2 separate regions of the Homo sapiens genome follow, and region 1 is linked to region 2. A link means that fine-mapping ties the variant in region 2 to the expression of a gene that starts in the linked region. Tissue or cell type: testis. Region 2 holds a variant in brackets; the other region holds the start of a gene. All regions are shown on one strand. Distances are between the middles of the regions.

Region 1 (8,139 bases), 210 kb before region 2:
AGATTTAGGAATGCACTAAAAAAAATAGTAATACTTTTGAATAAAGAACACTCTTTGGCACACTTCCTATTACATAACTCTCAACATTTAATGACAAAAATCCAGCCAGTGAACATGACAACACTTGGAATTTGTTTTGCAAAATGCTACATACAGTATATGAAATTGCCATACATGGTAGCCCTGGTTTTTCATTTTTCATCTTCAGCTTATATATAATTCTTTGTATAAGGATAATTTTATTTTATTCCAAGTCACTAAACTTTACATTCTTGGTAGTGCTAAAAAAGACTAGACCCTCTAGGGCTGGAACTCTTTGGAACTGGCAGATCTGCACACCATGTCTCCTAACATATTGGTAAGTGTTTATGAATATGTAAATTGGGATTTAAAAAATCCAGGGCAATAGGTTATGGAAACAGTCATTGCCTCAGATTAGCTGATGTTAAACCAATAATAGTGTGTCAAAAAATGTTAATTTGAGGCCCAATTTCATTTATTATTCTGGTGTAAGTGACTAAATTGCACAGTAGCATAGTTGCAATGACTATTCATTTCATTACTTTGGTACATGGCATTTGAGCATTTTGTGAATCTGAGCATGCTGGTCTCTTCTGCCTGGGAGTGAAGTTTCACAAGGTAATCTGAATGACAAACATCTCAGAGCTTGCTCACATTCCTTGGTGGAATAGTCACTTCTGAGAGAAAGAGGTGTGGCTTCGTGGTCTGGGAAAAGGACTGCCAGCCAGGAACATGGAGTTCTTCTTCTGGAACTAGTTCTGTTTTCTTTTTGGATCAGCTAATGCTAACGAATATATCTAGAACTCAGTTCACCCAGTTTAAAAAGCTGGTTAGGGAAATCTAATTAACTGGGATGTATTGAGTAATAATGAATGAATATCTGTTAAACGATTTGAAATGAAAAGTGGTATGAATGCAACTGAGTTATTTGTATAAACTGATTAGTTTTATGAAACAAATAAATAATAGAACAGTTTTATTTTTGGGGAATATTACTCTAAAACAAGAAAATTTATTTTAATGTTTAGTTTATTTTTCTAAATATTTTTATTTCTAAGTGGTTTTAAGTTAATAAGCTAAATGTTCTGTATGATGCACATAATTAAATTCATGATTAGCTTCCATTTAAACATAAAGAGGTGGTCTCTTTGTTGTATATAACAGGTAAATCTTTTCTGAGGTCTCATGCACTGTAAGAATGTAGACATTATTAACCTTAATGTTCTACAGAAAAAAAAGTTAGGATCAAAGAAATGTATAGTCAATCTAGAGCTTGAGCAGGGTGGCATAATGAACTGCCTGTTTTAAAGTGATAAAGACTTCCAAGAATTAGATGTAGGTTCCAGAAAGAGAAAATTGTGCACACGTGTCCAAACGAAATGGGGGTACAGATGAGGGAGACCTAATGATTGAGTTATTGTGATGTTCTATATCTGAAAGAGTAAAGTTTTTTTAAAAAATCAACCTCAATTCCAAATGTTCCATTCTGGTGACATTGCTGGTCAGGGTTCCCCTATGCCAAATCCAGGCTCCCCAAATTCATCAATCTCATATGTGGGTTAAAAAAAAAACTCTAAAAATACATTGTGATTCTCTACACTAGGAAGCTTTAAATCTCCAATCTTTTCCCTTTTTAAAAAATGAAAACAAAACAATGGATCTTCATTTTTGTGTCTGGGATCTCAAATTTGGCTCTGAATATGTGTTTCAAATCTCATTAATTACAATATTGGTCCCAGGAGATACAGTTGCTGATGCAAAGAACACTCTTTGTACTCAACATAATTTGAACAAGGGCAAAGAAGCATTTTATTTACATGTGAAAACATTTAGAGGAAAATAAAACAGAGATGGTTCAGGTAGCTGCTGAGCTGTTTTAATGATAATTGATTTGATTACTTAAGCTTTAAGGTTACTATATACAGGATACATATACATATAAAAGTCATGTTTTCACTTTGTATATTTGTCAGATGAGAACATTCTTATAAAGGTAACTCTGACATTAACTTCGCAAGTTCTGAACTAAGACCTTTTAGCATTTTATTCTTTCCAAAGACTAAGACCAAATTGTTCTAAATTCCATACCCCACTGTGCAGATCTATAATTTATTTATTTTTTAAACATCAGAAAATATGCCATTACCCATAGGACTTCCAAATGTAACAAATCTGGGTAAAAACCAATCAAATGAATAAATTATAGCAGTAGACAGCAAACAGTTTCTCCTGTTCTCTTTCTTCATTTTCCTTTCTCTATAGGAAATAGCAAATTAAACCATGGCTATTCATGATCTTGTACTATGAGAACACATATGGGCATACATTTTTGTCCTATTAACAAGTTTGTTGGCTTGGTGGCAGAAAGTAAAGTACACTGTAAAGACATCTTAATGCTTTGAGTAGGGTCATTTGTTAATGGACAGCCCAACCTAAAAGTCTTGTACTAATCTCTTATGGTACCCATTGGCTGTCTTTAAATGGATACTGAAGAGCAAAGGCAGGCAGCCCTGGTTATACACAAGAACCACGTGGAGCTTATGAAAAAAATGCAGGTACCTGGGTCCATCCCCAAGGTTTCTGATCCAGTTAGTATATAAACAAACAAACAAAACCCAACAACAATGAAAATAAAGGCAATTCTAACGTGCCATGATTGAGAACCATAGTTAAGAGAGTCCCAACACCAGTGCAAGGATAATACCTACTTTGTTTTTGGATAGTAGGACAAAGCCCACCCTTGGTTCGTTTTTCCAGGGGCAGGCAGGAGGGTGTCTGAGAAGCTGCCAGAGCTCTCTGAGAACTGACAGCATTCTCTGAGCAGCACCTTTATAGGGAGTATTCTATAAGAGATGGAGCCTTGATATACTAAAAATTTTCTGGGTTAAGGCCAATGGAAGTAGATAATTGAACAAAAAAATTACATAATGCTAACCTTGAAGTTGAGTCTGTAAACTGTGGCAACCTTATACACATTTGAGCATTTTGAGCAAAAGTTCATTAAGAGAGGCTGACTGGCTCAGCTTCGCTTCAATCACCCAATCATTGCAGGTCATTAGAAACAAAAAGAAGAATATGAATGCCATATCCTAACCACCCAATAACTGTAGGTCATTAGAAACTGACAGAAGAATTCTTAAGTCAGAAATGGCAAATTACATCTCTTGGAAATTAATCTACTTAAGCCAGTGTATTTTTTTCCCCCACTTTTCCCCCCTCATTTCCTTTATTGGCTTAATTTTTGTCCTTTTAATAAAAGTGCTTTTTTTCTTATATCTTTTTTTTAACGATAATGTCTGTCCTCTATTACTTTTAATCTTTTGCTATCACACTCTATGGCTTCTTCATTTAATCCTGTATCTTCTAGTCTTCTCATCTTTTTATACCTCACTTTCCTCATGTTTTTTTCCTTGTCATTAACACCAGTATAGAAAGTCCTTCCTCTTCATTTTCCCGTCTTTATGTCTGGTTGCCAACCGCGTTTTTGATTCTCGACCTCTCACTTTTGCTAACTGCCCTTCCTTAATCATCTGTTGATGTTTTATTCCTATCACTTCTGTCAATGCTCACACCCATTTCTTTCCTTTCCATCTATCTGTATATCTCCATATGCATTTTATGATCCTCCTACTAAATGCTTAAAGCTGTGTGTGTGTGGAATAGAACGGTACCTTCCTCCACGCGAATCCGATTTCCCTCTCCTCCCATAGCTACTTCTTGTCTATTCATCCTTTCCAGATGTCGCCCTGTCCCACCCCATCTGTCCCCTTCTTCCCCGTGTGAAGCCCATCTTCTTTCTAACCCCATTTGCACCCGTCTGATTTTACAGTCAAGGACTTCAATAAGATAAATGATGCAGAGTTCTACTGGGAACCAGATTGTGTGTGTTTCTGAAACTTTTGCGCGTTTACTGAAATGGGATTAGGGATTTGGATACAGAAACATTCTCGGGCAGCCTTTCAGCCCTGGCACAGCTTTGTACACCTTGGAGCGCGCTGGGGCCTATTCTAACGGGCAAGGACAGGGAAGTCTTTCAAGACCTTTTCTGGCCTTTTCCACTCCAGGGGTCAGGATGAATAGGCATCACTGACCCAAACTGTTAAACCAGGCCGGGTGGGGAAGCCTGGGGCCCTCTTCTGCGGCAGATCTGGCGGGGTGTCCAGGGCGCCGCGGGGCTCCGTGCAAGAAGGGGTTGGGGCAGGGGCCGCTGCGGCCGCAGGAGTCACCGGGCCTCCTCGGGAGGTCCGCTCACCTCTTACAGAGGAGGCCGACCCCAGGCCGGGTGCTCCCCTGGGGCGCAGGGCGCGGCCCCGGGCGCCGCCACCGCAGCGGCGCCGAGGGCCGGAGGTGCAGCCTTTCCCCAGGAGAGAAGGCGAGTCGCTGTCGGTCGCTCAGCCAGAAGGTCGAGGGAACCGCGCGGGTGTCCCTCGCCAGCCGGCCCTCTGGGAACAGGGCGGGGGCGACACCCCAGGGAGTAGGGCTGAGGACCGCAAAAATCAATCGTGGGTACCGGCGCGGGGTCACGCATAGGAGAGGAGCGGGAGAGGGGCTGGTGGGGGCCCCAGGGCGGCTGAGGCCGTGGCTCTGTCGTGGACTCGGCGGGCGCCCCGAAGTCTGGGGCCGCCACGGCTCCAGCTCCGCCGGCTCCGGCCGGAGACTCCAGGCCGCAGTTTCTCCTCCTCCCGGCGCCTTCTCTCCAGTGAGGAGCTGAGCGCGGGCGGCGCGGGGGGAGGGGTGGCGGCGGAGAGAACAGCCAGTTGTTTAAAATCCTTCTAGAGCAGTTTCTAATTCCCCCCTTGCGCCCGGGTTCGGAGGGGGGAGGGGGAAGGAGAGCGGGTGGAGGGAGGAGAGCGGAGAGGGAAGGCGGGAGGGAGGGAGTCGGGGAGGGAGGGAAGGAGGGAGGAGACTGCCGCTGAGGCTTAGCCGCCACCGCGCGCTTCGGAAGGCCAGAGGGAGGGGGAGGCCTGTCAGTCTCGCGCGTTGCCTGGGCGAAGGGGGCGGAGCTTTGGCGTGGGGCGGCCAATAGTGGGGGTGGCTGCGTGGGTCGCCATGGGGACGGGGCTGTTCCCGGGGAGGCTGTGATGGGTTGACAGGTGCGTGACAGTGGGAGCTGCTCTCGGCACAAGCATGTACGGCAAAGGCAAGAGTAACAGCAGCGCCGTCCCGTCCGACAGCCAGGCCCGGGAGAAGTAAGTGTCTCCGCTTCTCACCCACCTCCGCCTTCACACGCGCGCACACTCACGCACGCACTCGCACACTCTGGGAGACACAGACACTCTCCGCCCGGGGAGCGCCGGGGGTGGGCTGGCAGGGGGAGGGGTGCCGCGATGGGGGCGTGTGGTGCGGGGAGCTGCGCTTTCCCGGGAGGTGCGGGCGCTGGGCGGGCGGCCGCAGGGGGCTGTCGGCGGGAGGGACCGGGTGTGTTGAGGGGCGGCGGTGGTGCTGGTGGCGAGGATGGAAACTTGTTTGGGTGATTGAGGGAAATAACCCGCGGGTTCACCTTCCAAAGTAACTTTAGAGCTGGGGTCCGGGGCTCCGGGGACCTGGGGAGCCGCCGGGGGTGGCGGGAGGGGCAGCTGCGTGGAGGAAGGCGCGCAGTGGGAATGTGGGTGTTTGGCGGGCCGGCCGGGGTCGGGGCCGGGGTCGGGGCGGGCAGCGCGGGGAGCGCGGCGGCGGGGGCCTGGGCGCTGGGGCTTAGGGCCGCGAGCGCGGGGCGAGGCGAGGCGAGGGCGGCGGTGCCGGGCGCGCGGCGGGCGGAAGCCGGGCGTGGAGCGGCCGAGCGGGGCCCCGCGGGGCGCGGAGACGCGCGCGGGGCGCGGAGGGCGTGTGCGGGTTGGGCGTCCGGGCTTTCCTGGGCCAGCTACGGACGCGGCGCCCGCAGTCCCCCGCGCATCGCGGGGCTGGGGCTGGGGCTGGGGCGGGGGCGGGGGCGGGTGGGCGCCGGAGACGCCGCCGAAGTTTGGGAGTCGGAGAGGGACCGAGTTCCCGGGGAGCTAAAGTGTGTTGGCGAGGAGCGGGATCCGCTGGAGGAGGCTGGCGTTTCTGCCTCTCGCAGCGGACCCAACTCCGCGGCGGCGGCTGGCGAACTTTTTGTGAGGCTGGCAGCCCCCGAGCGGCGGGAGGGGCGGGCCCGGCGGGGCGGTGGTCGGGGGCGCGCGGAGGGGAGTTGTGGGAGCCGCCGGGGGCGCCCGAGGAGGGCAGCTGTGGCGGGGAGGGCCAGTGGTCCGAAAAGGGGTTTGTGGGAGGGGAGAAGCGTTCAGGTGGGAAGGAGCCGCTTGGTTACAGTTGTGGGGAGATACAGGTGTTAACTTCGGTGGGAGCCCAAGAGGCGGCTGGCGAGAACAGAGCCCCTCCCGGCCCGGGATGCCACTGTCACGGCACACTGCAAAGCAAAGCGGTTTGCTGCTATTCTTGTGTACTTGTAACGGTGATTTGGTTGTTACTAAAAATGAGAACGAATAGTGACTGTGATCACTGAGGAAGAACCCCCCCCTTTTTTTTTTAAACTGTGCAACAGATCAGTGATTCCCAGTAACCACTTAAACTCTGAGGGTCAGAGTTATCCTTGTCGTTGAACGCACCCTGTCTTTCTGAGGGGGTTCAGACCAGAGAAAAAGTCTGAGAGCATCTCTCAAAGGTACTTTGGTTACCTTGCGCACAGAAATAGCTGCGTAAATAAAAACCGAATGCGCAGGCGACTGAGTTTCCCTCCTTGGTTTAGGCAGTTAGTCTCCCCCTGAAAGTTTTGTGTGCCCTAGGGATGGGAACATTTCCTAATCTTTGTGTTGGCAGCAACACACTCAATTCCCATAGGATTTAGAGGTATCAGGCCTTGATGTAGCAAAGCAAAACAAAACAAAACAAAAATTAGAGAGGCTTTTTTGTTTTTTTGCAAGAGATATTTTCTGAGCTGCATTCAGGATCTTGTTGCTGTGACAAGTAGTATATAAAAGACATAGCGTTATAGCCTGGTTAAGAAACGGCAGTTACTAGAATTGAAGTTTTGAAATGCAGTCTCATTTGTGTGCATTAATCATTTTGTTATAATGTGCCTGATAAAAACATCTGAAGGAGGATGTTTTAATGATCACAGAATATTTGAATTTCACATTAGTCAGAGTGATTGAAATGTATTGAGGCATGATCTTATTTTGGGGGTGACTGAATTTGAGAATCAAAGTAATTTTAGATTTTAGGTGAACTTCCAGGAAGGGGTGAACTTTAGTTGAATCCCACTCAGTATCCTGAGGACTGCTTGATTTTTTTTTTTAGTTTCTCAGATAATAACAAGGATGTTGGAACTTGCATAACTGTGGTCCTTTCTAGCTCTAATTCTGTGATTTCCCACCAGGAAAACAAATAATTGCCACTTTGCTGTCAAATCTACCAAACTGAACACCAAGTAATATCTACTCTCGTGAGCAGATCAGGGTTCTGCTAGATGGTGCTATTTGATTTAAATATATTTCTTCCATTCATTTCAATTGGCAGCAGGAATTCTTGACTGGTTTGCCTTATGAACTTAAATATAGGTGAAGAGGCCGCTTTTGGAGAATTGACAATGACTGTTCTGGGTTAATTGTCGTTGCATTAATTTCTAGGTTAATGTTGTTTGAATCTAAGACAAACATCGACGTAGGTTCTGTCTTATAGAATAAACTTAATTTCATCTTGGTGGGAGAGTTGATCTAATCTCTCGGTTTTTCTCTTTATGTTTACTTGGGACTTTAATGGCACTATTCTGCAACAATGTACTAACATCTGAAGGTAGGAATCTTGAAGTCATCATTAAAATGGATGTCACCAGATTTTTGTTCTTAATTTTTAAGGTAACAGATTATAAAAGGTGAAGAATTCTCCTTTAGTAAGCAAATTAGAACTGTTCTTATCTTAAAAATCACAGAAATAATTTGTTTCTGTAACAAATACTCATTTTAACAAAAACATTCTGCAAAAGGAGTCATTATTATAAATAATAGCATGCTTAGGAAATAAGCACATTGGTTTTATAATCAAGAAATGTGTTTTCTAACATGAGTTCATGGTGAATAGTTGACAAGTGCTTACCTGTATTAGATCTTTGTTTTGTCTTTCATTAGGAAGTCACTATATGAAATA
Region 2 (8,000 bases):
CCTAACACTCAGTAGGTGATTAATAAATGATAGCCATTGTTCTTGATCAGCCAGGCTTGTACTTAAACATTCTCTTTAAAACTATTGAAGGAAAAAAGAAGGAAAGGGAATTTCATCTGATCAACCAGCTTGTGCTTAAACATTCCCTTTAAAACTATTTTAGGGAAAAGGAAGGGAAGGAAATTTCATCTGTCTAGCTCACCAAGAATGGAGTGGACATTGGATTCTGGGAGCAAAGGCCTATGACAAAGAAATTAAAACTAAAATACTCTCTCTGCCTTTTTATAAATCAGTTTTTCTCTTCATGCCACTTTGGTAACAACTTTTGTGGTATCAGAATTAAAGACTGTTTATTAACACAGTTTTCCCTTTTAATTTGCCATATATTGTTTTTTGTATTATACAAGGGTTAGTACTTGTCTAAGCTGACCTGCTACGCCCCTGAAAGCACAAAATGTGTCTTGTTCATTGTATATATATCCCAGAGTATATCACACCTAATATGTAATCAACAAGTATATATGAATTCCATGAATCTCAGTTGTTGTGTATACTGTGCCTGAGAGGCAGAAGAACTTGGTTTGTTAACAGCTTGACCACAAATCAACTATGTGGTGATAGTTTCAGACTTTATTCACACAACTAATTATTTTTATTGCTATTGTTAGTATTACTACTACTAATTATTTCTATTACTGTTCTTTAAAATAGTATTTGTATGTTTTTTATTAGTCAAGGTAGGAAAGTGGTTGTAAAAAAATCCCAAATTTCAGTGCCTTAATACAATAAAAGTTTATTTCTTACCTTATGTCACAGTCTACTATGTATAGGATTGCCAGATAAAATTCAAGATGCCCAGTTACATTTGAATTTCAAATAAGCAATAAACAATTTTTAAGTATATCCTAAATATTGCATACATATATAGTTATGTCTTTAATACTGTATAAGGCATACTTATACTAAAAAAATATGTGTTTTATCTGAAATTCAAATTCAGCTGTGCTCTCTGTATACTTATTAATTGTTAAAGCTGGCCACCCTAAAGTGTAGAGGAGTGATGATGGATAGAAGAGGTGGGTGGCTCTACTTTGTACAGTCAGTGAGAGTCTCATACTCCTTCCTTCACATAGTCCTACCATATGTTGGGCCTTATCCTCCTCTATATTCAGTCCATATGTGGAGAACAGCAGAGCATAATATATGGGGAATTGTGTGTGAGGTTTCATGGGCCAAACTTGGAAGCACCTTGTTATCACTTCCACCCACTTTGTACATATTTGCCATAACTCAGTCACATGACCTCTGCTCACATAAAGGAGGGCTGGGAAATGTAGTTTGGCTGTGTGTCTGAGAAGCAAAAACAGGTTTAGTGAGCATCCAGTCTCTACCATATTCCTTTCTTTGTTCACTAAATCAGTGACATTATTGTTTTTATTTTTCTGTTTTTTTCCCCTTTGAACAATTAGGATATCAGCACATTTACTCTTAGTTTTGTTCTCCCCCTGCAAAAACAAACAAAACCACAATGATTCCTTTTAAACATTCCTTCCTTTTATGTCTTTCTGTGGAATCATCAAAATGAGTTGTACTATTTCTCCAAAGAATGTAAGTTAGACTTAATACATGTTTAGGCGAAGTTCAAGAGACACACCTGCTCATTTCTTGTCCTGAAATACATTACAGGGTGCCCAGTTATACAGCTGGTCAATAAAAAGATGCCTGATTGCCTTCCAGAGTCAAAGAGGCTTCACTTGACAATAAGAAATAAAGGTGGGCCAGGCGCAGTGGCTTAGGTCTGTAATCCAAGCACCTTGGGTGGCTGAGGGGGGCGGATCACGAGGTCAGGAGTTGAAGACCAGCCTGGCCAAGATGGTGAAACCCCGTCTCTACTAAAAATACAAAAATTAGCCGGGCGTGGTGGCATCGCCTGTAGTCCCAGCTACTCAGGAGGCTGAGGCAGGAGAATGTCGTGAACCCGGGAGGCGGAGCTTGCAGTGAGCCGAGATCCCGCCACTGCACTCCAGCCTGGGCCACAGAGCGAGACTCCGTCTCAAAGGAAAAAAAGGAAGGAAGAAAGAAAGGTGGAAGTTTGGTGTTTTTGTGAAGAGAAAGAATTGCATCATGAAGATAGTGTCAGTGTTTGAGCATATAAGTAGATTATTGTTTATAATTATATATTGTTTATTTCAGTATTGCACAGCAAACATATCCATTTTATTTATATTACATTGTTTTGGAAAACTCTAGATATACTTAGCAGAGTAGTTATATTTGATTTAAAGGGTAGAAAAAAATTAGTAATTTGGATGTCTTGTTTTAAATGACATTTATTTGTTTCTTCATTCTTTCATTTAGCAAATAATTATTGAATGCCTACTATTTGTAGGATATAGCATGTATAGTTGAAGCTATACATGAGTATCCATAGTCACTGTGATAGGAATTCTTTTTTTTCAACTTTTATTTTAGATTCAGAGGATACATATATGTAGGTTTGTTACCTGGATGTATTGCATGATGCTGAGGTTTAGGGTATGAATGATCTTATCACCCAGGTACTGAGCATAGTACCCAATAGTGAGTTTTTCAACCCTTGTTCCCTCTCTTCCTCTCCCCTCTAGTAGTCTTCAGTGTCTATTGCTGGCATCGTTATGATCATGAGTACCCATTGTTTAGCCCCCAATTCTGAGTGAGAACATGTGATATTTGGTTTTCTGTTCCTGAATTAATTTGCTTAAAATAATGGCCTCCAGCTGCATCCATGTTGCTGCAAAGGACATGTGTATTAGTCTGTTCTTAGACTGCTACAGAGATACTACCTAAGACTGGGTAATTTATAAACAAAGGAGTTTTAATTGACTTACAGTTCCGCATGGCTGGGGAGGACTCAGGAAACTTACAATCGTGGTGGAAGGGGAAGTAGGCACCTTCTTCACAAGGCTGTAGGAGAGAGTATAAGCATGTTGGCCGGGCAGGGTGGCTCACGCCTGTAATCCCAGCACTTTGGGAGGCCGAAGCAGGCGGATTACCTGAGGTCAGGAGTTCGAGACCACCCTGGCCACCATGGTGAAACCCCGTCTCTACTAAAAATACAAAAATTAAATGGGCATGGTGGCACATGCCTGTAATCCCAGCTACTCGGGAGGCTGAAGCAGGAGAATTGCTTCAGCCCGGGAGGCAGAGGTTGCAGTGAGTCGAGATTGTGCCAGTGCACTCCAGCCTGGCCGACAGAGCCAGACTCTGTCTCAAAAAAAGAAGAAAGAAAGGAGAGAGAGAGAGAGAGAGAGAGAGAGAGAGAGAGAAACTGTCAAATACTTATAAAAACCATCAGATTTCATGAGAAGTCACTATCATAAGAACAGCATAGGGGAAGCCACCCCATGATCCAATCACCTCCCACCTGGTCCTTCCCTCGACACATGGGGATTATGAGGATTACAATTCCAGATGAGATTTGGGTGAGGACACAGCACCAAACCAT[ATCACCATG/G]ACTTTGTTCTTTTTTGTGGATGCATAGTATTCCATGGTGTATATGGAATATATACCATGTGTATACACCATGGAATACTATGCATCTATTTTCTTTATCCAGTCCACTGTTGATTGACATCTAGGTTGATACCATGTCTTTGCTATTGTGAGTAGTGGTGCTATGAACATGTGAGTGTATGTGTCTTTTTGATAGAATGATTTATTGACTTTTGGTTTTATGCCAAGTAATGGGATTGCTGGGTTGAATGATAGTTTTGAGTTCTTTGAGAAATCTCCAAACTGCTTTCCACGGTGGCTGAACTAAATTACATTCCCACTAACAGTGTATAACACTTTTCTTCACAGCCTTACCAACATGTTTTTGTTTTTTTGACTTTTTTAATAATTGCCATTCTCACTGGGTGAGATGGTATCTCATTGTGGTCTTGATTTGCATTTCTCTGATTATTAGTGATGCGGAGCATTTTTTCATGTGTTTGTTGGCCGCTTGTATGTCTTCTTTTGAGAAGTGTCTGTTCATGTCTTTGCCCATATTTTAATGAGGCTATATGTTTTTTGCTTGTTCATTTAAGGTCCTTACGGATTCTGGATATTAGACCTTTGTTGAATGCAGAGTTTGTGAATACTTTCTCCCATTCTGTAGGTTGGTTGTTTACTCTGTTGATAGTTTCTTTGCTTTGCAGACCCTCTTTAGTTGAATTAGGTTCCACTTGTCAATTTTTGTTTTTGTTGCAATTGCTTTTGAGGACTTAGTCGTAATTCTTTGCCATGGACGAAGTCCAGAATGGTGTTTCTTACTTTTTTTTCTAGGATTCTTATAGTTTGAGGTTTTACATTGAAACCTATACTTTATTTTGAGTTATTTTTTGTATATGGTGAAAGGTAGGGGCCCAGTTTCATTCTTCCACATATGGCTAGCCAACTATCCCAGCACCATTTATTGAATAGGGGTCCTTTTCCCATTTAGTATTTTTGTCTACTTTGTCAAAGATCAGATGGCTGTAGGTCTGCAGCTTTTTTTCTGGGTTCTCTATTCTGTTCCATTAGTCTATATGTCTCTTTTTGGACCAGTACCATGCTGTTTTGGCTTATTGTAGCCTTATAGTATAGTTTGAAGTCAGGTAATATGATGTCTCTGGCTTTGTTTTTTTTCACTTAGGATTGCTTTGGCTATTTTGGCTCTTTTTTGGTGCTATATGAATTTTAGAATCGTTTGTTCTAGTTCTGTGAAAAATGACATTGGTAGTTTGGTATGAATAGCATTGAATCTATAGAGTGCCTTAGGCAGTATCGCCATTTTAATAATATTGATTCTTCCAATCTGTGAGCATGAGATGTTTTTACATTTGTTTGTGTCTTCTATGACTTCTGTTATCAGTATTTTGTAGTTCTCCTTGTAGAGATCTTTCAACTACTTGGTTAGATGTATTCCTGGCTATTTTATTTTTTTCCTGTGGCTATAGTAAATGGGATTGCATTCTTGGTTTGGCTCTCAGCTTGAACATGATTAGTATATAGAAATGCTGCTGATTTTTTTTTCCATTGAATTGACATCCTGAAACTGTGCTGATGTAGTTTATCAGCTCCAGGAAACTTTTGGCAGGGTCTTTAAGGTTTTCTAGCTATAGAATCACACATTGTTTGCATAGAGAGATAGTTTGACTTCTTTTCTTATTTGGATACCTTTTTTTTTTTTCTAACTTTCTGTTGCCCAATTGATCTGGCTAGGACCTCCAGGAATTCTAATATTTAACCCTTAATATTGAATGGAGTTACATTTCATGTCATGCTTTTTGAGTGATTTACAGGTGCAAATCGGAGATACTGCAGTTTGGTTTCAGAGCACCACAATAAAGTGAATATTGCCATAAACTGAGTCACACACATGTTTTGGTTTCTTTTATAGGGCATATAAAAGTTATATGTACATTATACTGTATTCTATTAAACATGCAATAGCATTATACCTAAAGAAACAATGTACATACCTTAGTTCCAGAATCTACAAAGAACTTAATCAAATTTATGAGAAAAAAACAACCCCATGAAAAAGTGGGCAGAGGATATGAATAGACATTTCTCGAAAGAAGACATTTATGCAGCCAACAAACATATGAAAAAAAGCTTATCATCACTGGCCATCAGAGAAATGCAAATCAAAACCACAGTGAGATACCATCTCATGCCAGTTAGAATGGCGATTGCTAAAAAGTCAGGAAACAACAGATGCTGGAGAGGATGTGGAGAAATAAGAACGCTTTTACACTGTTGGTAGGAGTATAAATCAGTTCAACCATTGCGGAAGACAGTGTGGCGATTCCTCAAGGATCTACAACCAGAAATACCATTTGTCCCAGCGATCCCATTACTGGCTATATACCCAAAGGATTGTAAATCATGCTGCTATAAAGATGCATGCACACATATGTTTATTGCGGCACCATTCACAATAGCAAAGACTTGGAACCAACCCAAATGCCCATCAATGATAGACTGGATAAAGAAAATGTGGCACATATACACCATGGAATACTATGCAGCCATAAAAAAGGATGAGTTCATGTCCTTTGTAGGGACATGGACGAAGCTGGAAACCATCATTCTCAGCAAACTAACACAGGAAAAGAAAACCAAACACTGCATGTTCTCACTCATAAGTGAGAGTTGAACAATGAGAACACATGGACACAGGGAGGGGAACATCACACACCGGGGCCTGTCGGGGTGGGGGGCTAAGGGAGGGATAGCATTAGGAGAAATACCTAATGTAGATGACGGGTTGACGGGTGCAGCAAACTTCCATGGCACGTGTATACCTATGTAACAAACCTGCACGTTCTGCACATGTAATCCAGAACTTAAAGTATAATAAAAAAATTATTGCTAAGAAATGGCAACAATTCTCTGAGCCTTCAGTGAGTCAAAATCTTTTTGCTGTTGGAAGGTCTTGCCTTGATATTGATGGCAGCTGACTGATCAGAGTGGTGGTTGCTGAATGCTGGGGTGGCTGTGGCAGTTTCTTAAAATAAGACAACAATGAAGTTTGCCACATTGAATGACTTTTCCTTTCACAAATGATTTCTCAATAGCATACAATACTGTTTGATGGCATTTGACCCACAGTAGAACTTCAAAATTGGAGTCAGTTTTAGTCTTAAACCTTGCCGCTGCTTTATCAACTCAGTTTATGTAATATTCTAAATCTTTTGTAATCGTTTCAGCAGTGTTCATAGCATCTTCACCAGTAGATTCTATCTCAAGAAACCACTCTCTTTGCTCATCCATAAGAAGCAACTCATCTGTCAAGTTTGATATCGTGAGATTGGCAGCAATTCAGTCACATCTTCAGGCTCCACTTGTAATTCTTGTTCTCCCTCTATTTCCACTACATTTGCAGTGACTTCTTCCACTCAAGTCTTGAACCCCTTAAAGTCATCCACAAGGGTTGGAATCAACTACTTCCAAACTCTAGTTTATGTTACTATTTTAATCTCCTCCCGTGAATCACAAATGTTCTTAATAGCATCTAGAATAATGAATTCTTTCCAGAAGGTTTTCTATTTACTTTTTCCAGACCCATCGAAGGATTCACTATTTGTGGCAGTTAAAGCCTTATGAAATATATTTCTTAAATAATAAGTCTTGAAAGTCAAAGTTACGCCATGATCCATGGGCTGCAGAATAGATATTGTGTTTGCAGTCAGGAAAACAACATCAGTCTCCTTGTATATCTTCATCAGAGCTCTTGGGTGACTAGATGCATTGTCAATGAACAGCAGAGGACTTCCGTGTAGCAGGTCTCAACAGTGGGCTTCAAATATTCGGTAAACCATTCTGTGAACAGATGTGCTGTCACCCAGGCTTTGTTGTTCCATTTATAGAACACAGGCAGAGTAGATTTAGTGTAATTCTGAAGGGCCATAGGATTTTCAGAATGGTAAATGAGCATTGGCTTCAGCTTAAAGCCCCCAACTGCATTAGCTGCTAACAAGAGAACCAGCCTAACAAGAGAATCAGCCTTTGAATATTTGAAAGCATGCATTGACTTCTGCTCTTTAGCTATGAAAGTTCTACATGGCATCTTTCAATAGAAGGCTGTTTCATCTACACTGAAAATCTGTTGTTTGGTATAACCACCATAATCAGTGATCTTAGCTAGATCTTCTGGATAACTTGGTGCAGCTTCTACATCAGCACTTACTGCTTCACTGTGCACCGTTTTGTTCTAAAGACAGCTTCCTTCCTTAAACTTCATGAACCAGTTTCTGCCAACATCAGACTTTTTGTCTGCTGCTCTCTTACCACTCAATTGAAGAGACTTAGGGCCTTGCTCTGTATTCGGCTTTGGCTTAAGGAAATGTTGTGGCTGGTTTGATCTTCTATCCACATCACTAAATCTTTCTCTGTATAAACAGTAAGGCTGTTTTGCTTTCTTATCATCTGTGTTTCACTGGAGTAGCACTTTTAATTTCCTTCAAGAACTTTTCCTTTGCATTCACAACTTG

Direction of the effects. Alleles are on the strand shown, and positions count from the first base shown. SD is a standard deviation of normalised expression in the study named.
With allele G in place of ATCACCATG in region 2, the expression in testis of the gene that starts at base 5,094 in region 1 is higher (small effect, 0.15 SD a copy in GTEx).

What was found. PIP is the estimated chance that this variant, and not a neighbour inherited with it, causes the effect.
Region 1: SSBP2 starts here. The variant in region 2 is fine-mapped to the expression of SSBP2 in testis (GTEx, PIP 0.96).

Annotation. Positions count from the first base shown.
Region 1 is chr5:81,748,052-81,756,190 of GRCh38, reverse strand. It overlaps SSBP2 (single stranded DNA binding protein 2), which reads left to right and starts at 5,094. Exons shown (of 17, transcript NM_001256732.3): 1 at 5,094-5,210. The coding sequence starts at 5,149. RefSeq lists a cis regulatory region at 1,300-1,385 and silencers at 4,193-4,542, 4,813-5,142, 5,313-5,362, 5,803-5,852, 6,073-6,232.
Region 2 is chr5:81,538,123-81,546,122 of GRCh38, reverse strand. The region is part of intron 4 of SSBP2 (single stranded DNA binding protein 2); the gene reads left to right. Among named protein-coding and RNA genes, the nearest start is that of ACOT12, 150 kb to the right of the region's middle. The variant ATCACCATG/G (reference allele first, on the strand shown) is at 3,485.